2 separate regions of the Homo sapiens genome follow, and region 2 is linked to region 1. Evidence: fine-mapped expression QTL. A gene starts in region 1. The other region holds a variant in brackets. All regions are shown on one strand. Distances are from middle to middle. Region 1 holds the start of LGR6 (leucine rich repeat containing G protein-coupled receptor 6). Region 2 overlaps LGR6 (leucine rich repeat containing G protein-coupled receptor 6).

Region 1 (5,520 bases):
TGGACATCTCCTAACATCGCTGAAAAGAGAAAGGAGCCCCAAGACTTCCCCACCCTGGCTCTTCTGCATGCCAGCTCTCAACCCCACCTTCAGGTGCCTTTCTGGTAGAGCTGTTCTCCAGAGAGGGCAAAGAAAGAAAATTCCTCCTCTGAGACACCCTCAGGACAACTGTAGGAATCCTTCATGCACCATCCAGATGGGACCCCTCCCCAGCCCAGGGCAGGGGACACGGTCCTCTGCCACCTCCTTCCAATATTCCAGACCCCACTGCTAAATTCCCCATATTGCCTCAGGACCCATCATACTCTTTATAGCTCCCACTCCCTCTCTTCTCTCCACAACTCTCAGAAGCATCCCCTGAGTCTTGAGAGAGAGGGGCTTTCTCAATCCCCAGGAAGACACAGACCAGCTCAGAAAACCCCACCTCCACTGAACCCAAATGCAGACTTCACAGCTCCGAGGGAATTGTGGCAAGCTAGTGGGAAAAACTTCTGCCAGCATGGATGGTAGGATGCTTGAATTCCAAAGGTGACAGTGTACCTCCTTCCCCAAGTCCTTCTAGAAAAAGGGTCATTAACCAGTCTAGGAAGACTTAATGCTGGGAAAGGAAGCTCTGGAAGGCCTTATCTCCCCTGCCCCTTCAACCCAGGCAAGGGACCTTCCTTCAGCTCACCCAGAGAAAGGCTCCACAGAAGTCACATCTAAACTCTTTAGCCACAGGACCCTGTCTTCAAATGAACCAATGTCACATACTCCCAGGATAGAAAACTGCTGAAAGAGGGGCTGGCCTGTGTGTAGGGTGGGGCCGGAGCCTGCCCTGCTTTGCCAGATGCTGAGCGCCCAGGCTCTGTGCAGTTGGTACCTTTATTCCCATGATTGCCTCTGCCGTCACCTACTGCACTGTGAAGGATTCCATTTGTCCTTCTAGATGGACATTATTTTTCTCTTCCCACTCCCTTACCTGGCCCACAGCCTGTGCCTTTTGGAGTGGAGGGGGACATCCCAACCTGGGGACAGGGACATTTGGAGAGGAGCCCCATGAAGAGTTGCCCTCTGGGACCCTCTACCTCCCACCAGGACACTCCCAACACTGAGCATCTTTAGTTCCACAAATTCTTGCTAGGCCCCTATAAAGATTCACCCAGCCTCCTCTTCCTCTAAGCTCCCATGTGCTGGAACCCCAAAGCCATAAGGAGCCTCTCTCAGGCCAGAAGGAACTCTGGGATCCTAGCCCTCAGCAGAAGGCCCCACCAGGCTTTCCCACCTGCTCCCAGCTCCTCTGAGGAAGTTGATAGAGCCTGCAGAGCTGGGCTGGAGGAGGTTTCCTTGCCCCAGAGCGGGGCTGGGGGTGCAGGTGGGTGGCCTGGAATGTGCTCTCTCACCCTCCTCCTGCCCAGGTGGTGAGCAGCCAGAGCCCCCAGCCCTCCAGCTCTGAGGGGAAGCTCCCATGAGCCAGACAGACAGGACAGCTGCCCCCAGTAGGGTCCCCTTCACGCGCCATCTCACCCCAACTCAGACGCTAAAAATGGTTCTCTGGTTTTCAGCCTCGGCGCCTGCCCACAAATTAGTGTCTCCAACACAGCCTCTTGGGACATGACTTTAGGGAGGCCCCTGGGGGAGCCAGGAGGCCCCAGTGAAGGGAGATGGTGCTGGCAGAGTCCCTTTCTGAGGAGACAAGAGTGGATAAGGCCCCCCTCCCAGCTTCTAGGAAACCCGCCCCCCCCGCCCCCACGAAGGCCACCCAGCCTCAGTGTGACAGCCCTGTTGTCCTCACCATGGCAGAAGAACAGACATTATTTCCACCCTACTGGGGCACGCTCCCCTCACCTCCACCTCCAGTTCTGTCAGCTTTACCCTCAGCCACCATCCCGGGCACTGCTCTGCTAGAAGAGAATGCAGCAACAGGAGATGGAGCAGCCAGCCCCGCGCCCTCCCGCTCAGGGTCCAGAACCCACCTCGCCAAGCCTGGGCTCCCATAGTCAGCCCACAAGCACGGAGGCCAATGGGGAAGCCAAGTCAGGGAAGCCCGGTCTCCCTGCTCGCCTGGTATTTAGTCTCAGACTCTTCTCCCCTCCCCAGTCCCGCAACGGTCAACTTGGAAGGGGGCAAACCCTCTCCGGGATGCCCATGCCCCAGGGCACCAAGCAAGCAGGTGCCCTGCTGAGGCCGGGACTGGGCGCTAGCCAGCAGCCCGCAGGACCAGGCGGGGACAGGCGGGCAGTACTCACAGGTAAGCCGTCAGGGGGTCCAGGTCCCCCGGAACGGCGGACAGCCCGAGCTCAGAGCAGTCGGCAGACAGCATGATGCCGTCCTCCTGGCAGTGGCAGGGGGCCGGGCAGGCGGTGGGCCCCGGGCCGGGCTGGGGGGCGCCGCCGGCCCTCCGGGAAGCGCACAGCGCGGCGCAAAGCCATAGCGCCCGGAGCCCCGGCGGGCTGGGCATCTCGGCGGTCGGGCTACTGGGGCACCTGGCGGCCGGGCGCGGACGCACGGCGCGATGGCCGCAGCTGCTTCCTCCCGGTCCCGGCGGGCTGCACCGTCGGTGGGGACCGCCCCAGGGGCTCTATTGGGCGGCGGCGGCGGCGGTGGGAGCGCCGGGACGGTGCAGTCAGAGAGGGGCAGGCATTGTTGAGTGATCTTCGTTATTCAGTTTCACAGGCTGGGCTTGGCAAGGGAGGGAGACCCAGCCGGAGGAGGAGTCAAGGAAACTTTCTACACTGCGGCTCGCTCCTCTTCCCTCCTTCCTTCGGAGCTGGCAGGAATTTCATCCAGGAAAGAAAAAAAAAAAAGGAAGAAAGCAAAGAAACCCAAGCGAGCAAAGCTCAGCCCGTCAGAGACCTGCATTTGTTTGGATAGGGTGTCCCAGGGCCTTGGCCGCAGGGCTGGGGACCCTCTTGCCTTTGGGGACAGCCACGAGGTCACATGGGACCCAGAGGAGGTCTCTGAAAGAGGCCTTGGGGCTCCCATTGCCCCTCATGCCTCCACCACGTTTCACACTGCAGGAAACTGAGACCCAAGAGGCAAAATGATTTGTTCAAGGTGACACAGCTGATGGGACATCCCCAGAGCTGGAACTCGTCCACCCTCCCTGGCCTGTCTGCTAGGACAGGAGAGAGGGGAGTGAGGGGCTACCCTGGAAGAGGCCAGGCTGCGGAGGGTTCCACTGCAGGCTGGGATGACCCGACGGTGGGCAACCAGGAGCAGTCTCCTCACTGAGAGGCCGGGCCTTGACTCCAAAGAAACGGGTGTGGAGTTACACCCGCTGAGTGCACCCTGGGTGGAAATGCACTCCTGCAGCCTCTGTCAGGTTTACGGCCTGGGGACCACCTTGATCCCTGCTCCCAGGACCTCGGGAGTCTGAGGGACTGTGGGCAGCTCAGCTGGTTGTCAGAGCCCACCTCAAAGTAAGCGGATTGGTGCCACCTGGAGGCCGGGTGCTGCACCTGCAGCTCAGCCACCCTGAGGCTGGAATCCCACCAAGTGGCTGACCTGGGCCGGCCCCAGAGCCCTGGAGAGCAAAGGGCATGGTGGTTAAAACTGAGGTCAATCCCTGTTCTCTCCTTAGACCATAGTGAGCTGGCTGTGCTTCCTTCATGCAGCCTCTTGCTCTCTCTGGTCTCTCCCATGCTGAGCCAAGCCCCCGCGCAGAGCTAGAGCAGGCTGTGGGCCCCCCTCCTTCCTTTTTTTGCCCTATCTCCCCATGGTCCAGCCAGAGGGTATACTAGAAACCTGGGACCTCAGAGGCATCCAGGATTTCTTCCACCCTGTCTTTCCACATGCCAGGATCCTCTCATCAACACCTCTCCACTCTCCCAATAACCTCCCAGGGCTAGAGGGGCTGCATAGCTGGACCAAGAAATGAGCAGACCTTGACCCTAGGCCTCCAGTTGGTGCCATGGCGCTGAAAGTAGAAGACGAGCCTCCGCTCTCGCTCTCCCTCTCCCTCTCCCCTCTTTCCACGGTCTCCCTCTGATGCCGAGCCGAAGCTGGACTGTACTGCTGCCATCTCGGCTCACTGCAACCTCCCTGCCTGATTCTCCTGCCTCAGCCTGCCGAGTGCCTGCAATTGCAGGCGCATGCCGCCACGCCTGACTGGTTTTCGTATTTTTTGGGTGGAGACGGGGTTTCGCTGTGTTGGCCAGGCTGGTCTCCAGCTCCTAACTGCGAGTGATCCGCCAGCCTCGGCCTCCCGAGGTGCCGGGATTGCAGACGGAGTCTCCTTCACTCAGTGCTCAATGGTGCCCAGGCTGGAGTGCAGTGGCGTGATCTCGGCTCGCTACAACATCCACCTCCCAGCAGCCTGCCTTGGCCTCCCAAAGTGCCGAGATTGCAGCCTCTGCCCGGCCGCCACCCCGTCTGGGAAGTGAGGAGCGTCTCTGCCTGGCCGCCCATCGTCTGGGATGTGAGGAGCCCCTCTGCCTGGCTGCCCAGTCTGGAAAGTGAGGAGCGTCTCTGCCCAGCCGCCATCCCATCTAGGAAGTGAGGAGCACCTCTTCCCGGCCGCCATCCCATCTAGGAAGTGAGGAGCGTCTCTGCCCGGCTGCCCATCGTCTGAGATGTGGGGAGCGCCTCTGCCCTGTCGCCCCGTCCGGGATGTGAAGAGCGTCTCTCCCCGGCCGCCCCGTCTGAGAAGTGAGGAGACCCTCTGCCTGGCAACCGCCCTGTCTGAGAAGTGAGGAGCCCCTCCGCCCAGCAGCCGCCCCGTCTGAGAAGTGAGGAGCCCCTCCGCCCGGCAGCCACCCCGTCTGGGAAGTGAGGAGCGTCTCCGCCCGGCAGCCACCCCGTCCGGGAGGGAGATGGGGGGGTCAGCTCCCCGCCTGGCCAGCCGCCCCGTCCGGAAGGGAGGTGGGGGAATCAGCCCCCCGCCCGGCCAGCCGCTCGGGAGGTGAGGGGCGCCTCTGCCCGGCCGCCCCTACTGGGAAGTGAGGAGCCCCTCTGCCCGGCCAGCCGCCCCATCCGGGAGGGAGGTGGGGGGGTCAGCCCCCCGCCTGGCCAGCCGCCCCGTCCGGGAGGTGAGGGGCGCCTCTGCCCGGCCGCCCCTACTGGAAAGTGAGGAGCCCCTCTGCCCGGCCAGCCGCCCCGTCCGGGAGGTGTGCCCAACAGCTCATTGAGAACGGGCCAGGATGACAATGGCGGCTATGTGGAATAGAAAGGCGGGAAAGGTGGGGAAAAGATTGAGAAATCGGATGGTTGCCGTGTCTGTGTAGAAAGAGGTAGACATGGGAGACTTTTCATTTTGTTCTGTACTAAGAAAAATTCTTCTGCCTTGGGATCCTGTTGATCTGTGACCTTACCCCCAACCCTGTGCTCTCTGAAACATGTGCTGTGTCCACTCAGGGTTAAATGGATTAAGGGCGGTGCAAGATGTGCTTTGTTAAACAGAGGCTTGAAGGCAGCATGCTCGTTAAGAGTCATCACCACTCCCTAATCTCAAGTACCCAGGGACACAAACACTGCGGAAGGCCGCAGGGTCCTCTGCCTAGGAAAACCAGAGACCTTTGTTCACTTGTTTATCTGCTGACC
Region 2 (5,000 bases), 69 kb before region 1:
GGTGACAGAGAGCATGGGGAGCAGAGGAGGTCAACTGAGCCACCAGAAGCTGGAGTGAGAACTCCACTTCCCTGCAGAGGTGGGGTGGGGGTGATGGTGCATGGAGCCTTGAATTAACCTTTCCATACCCACTTACAATTGAGGAGAGAGGGGAGGTGGGAGCTAGAGCAGCACTTTTCTCTCTCTCCTCACCCAGGGGAAAAGCTTGTTGGAGGAAAGTGATTTCATCAGCTTTGATTTATGCCATCTAATAAGATCCTTCCCCTCACTGTCAGCCTCTCAATAGATCAAAGGTGGGATATTAAAACGAAGGCAATTCCAACTGGTTCTCCTGGCTATGCTAATGCCTCAACTCTCCTTTCCTTCCATCTGTCAGGAGCATTGATGGGTGTGCAAGAACCCCTGGGGTGGTGGCGGGGGCGGGCAGAGAAAGTGCTTCCTTTGTATACATCAAAGGATGATACCTGAGCATTCCTCCAAGCTATTCCTTGTATTTTATTCAGCAGCAATATATAAAAATAATTACCCACCCTCCAGGAGGGAGACAGGGAAGTGCCTCTGTGTGTAGCCTTTAGGAGCTTCCCCCAAAGACACAGACCTACAGATCTGGGCAGAAGGCCACCTTTGTGGGTGACAATCCCGGAATCCTGGGGTGGGAACTACAAAAAGCCATCTCATCCATCCCCCAGCCTCCAGCCATTGAATTGCAGACATCAGGCTGGTTTCTGGCGACCTTCGTGGGCTGTCTGAGATGTGCTTGGGAGCCGGGTCCTGTGGTTGCTTGAGGCCTGGCTGCCTGCCCTGGCAAAGGGTGGCTGTGGTTGGTAGAGGAAGAGGCCGATGGAGATCTTCCCGACTTGCTTCTCCAGAAAGGGGGCAGTGATGTCAGAGGCTTAGGGAATAGAAGTGATATCCCAGAGTTTTAAAGATACTTAAAAGCTGTCCTAGCAGACTTTGTAGTAATAGGCACCAGGGAAAATTCAGGCACATATTAACACTTCTAAAAGTACCATAGGAGAAGGGAGAGAAGAAATGGGAAAAGTCCATATCAACCATGGCTTCCCACAGGGTTCCAGTCCTTCCCACAATCTATTTTCTCCCTCATTCCCAAGAGCTCCCAGGCTCTCTGTGACCAGTATGAGAACTGGAGAGGTTATACCTGTATAGTTTCAACCCTCCCCTCCCCAGCCTCCCTATTTCCTGGCCCCACATCCCTCCATCCATCAATTTCTCCATTCATCCATCCGTCCATCCACTCACACAGACTACACAATCATCCCCACGGTTGGAATCTTGTTTTTCTCTTGCTCAGAATTATCTATGGCTTCTAGTCAACCCCAAACTCTTTGGCTTGGGCTTCAAGATCCCTTCCCTGAAATGACTGTCTTACCAGCATAATTTCTCAGAAGATCTCCCCCAGTTCTCTATTTCATATGCAAATGTGCCTCTTGCCTTACCTCTTTGTCCCACAGTACATAGTTTATTCATCTTTGGATCTTTGTATAGGTTGATGCCCCTCTTTGAAAGATGTTTCTCCATCCTCTCTTCAAAGCTCTGCTTAAAACTCCTCTTTCTAGAGCCTTCTGACCTAACCTCACATGGTGCTGTTCCCTCCTATACTCAGCATCTTCCAAGTCCTTACTGATTGGTCCACAAGTACCCACCACACCCACACCCCCGTGCTGAAGCCATAATCCCTCTCCTCTAGCCTAGGGAGGAAATGAAGGAACAAATCAAACACACTCAAGTTGTTTCCAGTTAAAATGGAGGAAAACTTAGCTACCTTCTCACTAAAACACCTATGAAGATATATAGAGAAAAAACAAACAAACAAAAAGATGTATGCTGGCCGGGCGCGGTGGCTCATGTGGGTAATCCCAGCATTTTGGGAGGCTGAGGCAGGAGGATCACCTGAGGTCAGGAGTTCGAGACCAGCCTGGCCAACATGGTGAAACCCCCGTCTCTACTAAAAATACAAAATTTAGCTGGGCATTGGGGTATGAGCCTGTAGTCCCAGCTACTCAGCAGGCTGAGGCAGGAGAATTGCTTGAACCCGGGAGGCGGAGGTTGCAGTGCGCCAAGATCGTACAACTGCACTCCAGCCTGGGCAACAGAGTGAGACCCTGTCTCAGAAAAGAAAAAAAGATGATCATAACTCTGAAAATAATTTATTGAGGGTGTAGTAGAAGTTATTTGACACCCTCAGTAAGGTACAAGAAATCATGACCTCTCTGAAACAGGAACAAAAATCCATGAAAAGAAAAAAAGCTAAGACAGAAGAACAACAGCATAAAATAAAATAAAATAAAATAAAATAAAATAAAATAAAATAAAAGGCAAGTTTCAAAGACAAATTGAAGTGTAAATGGAACTAGGTGAGATATGGGAAGACTGCAGGGGAAGTAAATTAAAAAAGCAAAATTCAAATTTGCATTGTAGGTGATAATGAGTAGACCTGGCCCAGCAAAAAACTGAATTAGCAATGGGGAGAATAAACATGAGACACTCTCCTTGAAGTCAGAATAAAAGGACAAAGGGGCGAAGATTATGGAAATAAATATGAGATAGATAGAAACGAGAACTGAATTTGAATTTGAGAA[T/C]CATAGGTATTCCAGAGGATTAAACCCAGAGTGAATGGAGCAGAAGCACATGATAGCTGTAACTGAAAGAAAACATTACATACGGAACCAAAAAAGAGCCCGCATTGCCAAGTCAATCCTAAGCCAAAAGAACAAAGCTGGAGGCATCATGCTACCTGACTTCAAACTATACTACAAGGCTACAGTAACCAAAACAGCATGGTACTGGTACCAAAACAGAGATATAGATCAATGGAACAGAACAGAGCCCTCAGAAATAATGCCACATATCTACAACTATCTGATCTTTGACAAACCTGAGAAAAACAAGCAATGGGGAAAGGATTCTCTATTTAATAAATGATGCTGGGAAAACATATGGGCTAGCCATATGTAGAAAGCTGAAACTGGATCCCTTCCTTACACCTTATACAAAAATTAATTCAAGATGGATTAAAGACTTAAATGTTAGACCTAAAACCATAAAAACCCTAGAAGAAAACCTAGGCATTACCATTCAGGACATAGGCATGGGCAAGGACTTCATGTCTAAAACACCAAAAGCAATGGCAACAAAAGCCAAAATTGACAAACGGGATCTAATTAAACTAAAGAGCTTCTGCACAGCAAAAGAAACTACCATCAGAGTGAACAGGCAACCTACATAATGGGAGAAAATTTTCGCAACCTACTCACCTGACAAAGGGCTAATATCCAGAATTTACAATGAACTCAAACAAATTTACAAGAAAAAAACAAACAACCCCATCAAAAAGTAGGCAAAGGATATGAACAGACACTTCTCAAAAGAAGACATTTATGCAGCCAAAAGACACATGAAAAAATGCTCATCATCACTGGCCATCAGAGAAATGCAAATCAAAACCACAATGAGATACTATCTCACACCAGTTAGAATGGCAATCATTAAAAAGTCAGGAAACAACAGGTGTTGGAGAGGATGTGGAGAAAGAGGAATACTTTTACACTGTTGGTGGGACTGTAAACTAGTTCAACCATTGTGGAAGTCAGTGTGGTGATTCCTCAGGGATCTAGAACTAGAAATACCATTTGACCCAGCCATCCCGTTACTGGGTATATACCCAAAGGACTATAAATCATGCTGTTATAAAGACACATGCACACGTATGTTTATTGCGGCACTATTCACAATAGCACAGACTTGGAACCAACCCAAATGTCCAACAATGATAGACTGGATTAAGAAAATGTGGCACATACACGCCATGGAATACTATGCAGCCATAAAAAATGATGAGTTCATGTCCTTTGTAGGGACATGGATGAAATTGGAAATCATCATTCTCAGTAAACTATCACAAGGACAAAAAACCAAACACCACATGTTCTTACTCATGGATGGGAATTGAACACTGAGAACACATGGACACAGGAAGGGGAACATCACACTCTGGGGACTGTTGTGGGGTGGGGGGAGGGGGGAGAGTTAGCATTAGGAGATATACCTAATGCTAAATGACAAGTTAATGGGTGTAGCACACCAGCATGGCACATGTATACATATGTAACTAAGCTGCACATTGTGCACATGTACCCTAAAACTTAAAGTATAATAATAATAATAATAATAAAAAGAAAACATTAGAGCTGAAAGAATAGTGTAGATTTAAGATGTTTATTGTATCCCAAGCAAACTAAGTGGAAAGAATACCTCAACACATTCTGGCAAACATTTCAGTTGTAAGGATAAAGAAAAAAAATCTTGTAAGCATTCATAAAGAAAAAATATGCTCTCCTTGAAAGAATAAAATGATAAGGCTGACCTCAGAATTTCCTGGCACACTGCATGTCAGGGGGAAATGGAGCCTTATCTACAGGATTCTGAGAAAAATAGATTGTGATCCAATAATTTTATATTGGCCACAAAAAAATATATTAGTTAGTTGGCCACAAAAAAATATATTCTCAACTATATAAAAGATCAGAAATACAGTTGCCATCTGTTGTTCTTGGGGGAAAAACTACTTGAAAATATACTACAGGCAATCAAGAGAGATAATTTTTAAATGAAGAACTCAAGAATGGGGAATTTGGCAGAGCACGGTGGCTCATTCCCGACACTTTGGGAAGCCAAGACAGGCGGATGTCAGGAGTTCGAGACCAGCCTGGCCAACATGGTGAAACCCTTTCTCTACTAAAAATACAAAAATTAGCTGGGCATGGAGACACATGCCTGTAGTCCTAGCTACTTGGGAGGCTGAGGCAGGAAAATCACTTGAGCCCGGGAGGCAGAGGCTGCAGGGAGCCAAGATTGTGCCACTGCACTACAGCCTGGGCGACAGAGCGAGACTCTGTCTGAAAAAATAAAATAGTCCAGGAGCGGTGGCTCACACCTGTAATCCTAACACTTTGGTAGGCTGAGACGGGCGGATCACCTGA

Evidence for each region. PIP is the estimated chance that this variant, and not a neighbour inherited with it, causes the effect. A credible set is the group of variants that fine-mapping cannot tell apart.
Region 2: its variant is the best candidate, but not a certain one, in a credible set for the expression of LGR6 in whole blood (INTERVAL, PIP 0.60).

What each region holds. Positions count from the first base shown.
Region 1 is chr1:202,190,910-202,196,429 of GRCh38, reverse strand. It overlaps LGR6 (leucine rich repeat containing G protein-coupled receptor 6), which reads right to left and starts at 2,631. Exons shown (of 18, transcript NM_001017403.2): 1 at 2,229-2,631. The coding sequence starts at 2,440. RefSeq lists enhancers at 3,498-3,547, 3,242-4,045.
Region 2 is chr1:202,260,271-202,265,270 of GRCh38, reverse strand. The region is part of intron 4 of LGR6 (leucine rich repeat containing G protein-coupled receptor 6); the gene reads right to left. Among named protein-coding and RNA genes, the nearest start is that of LGR6, 69 kb to the right of the region's middle. RefSeq lists an enhancer at 751-1,251. The variant T/C (reference allele first, on the strand shown) is at 2,601.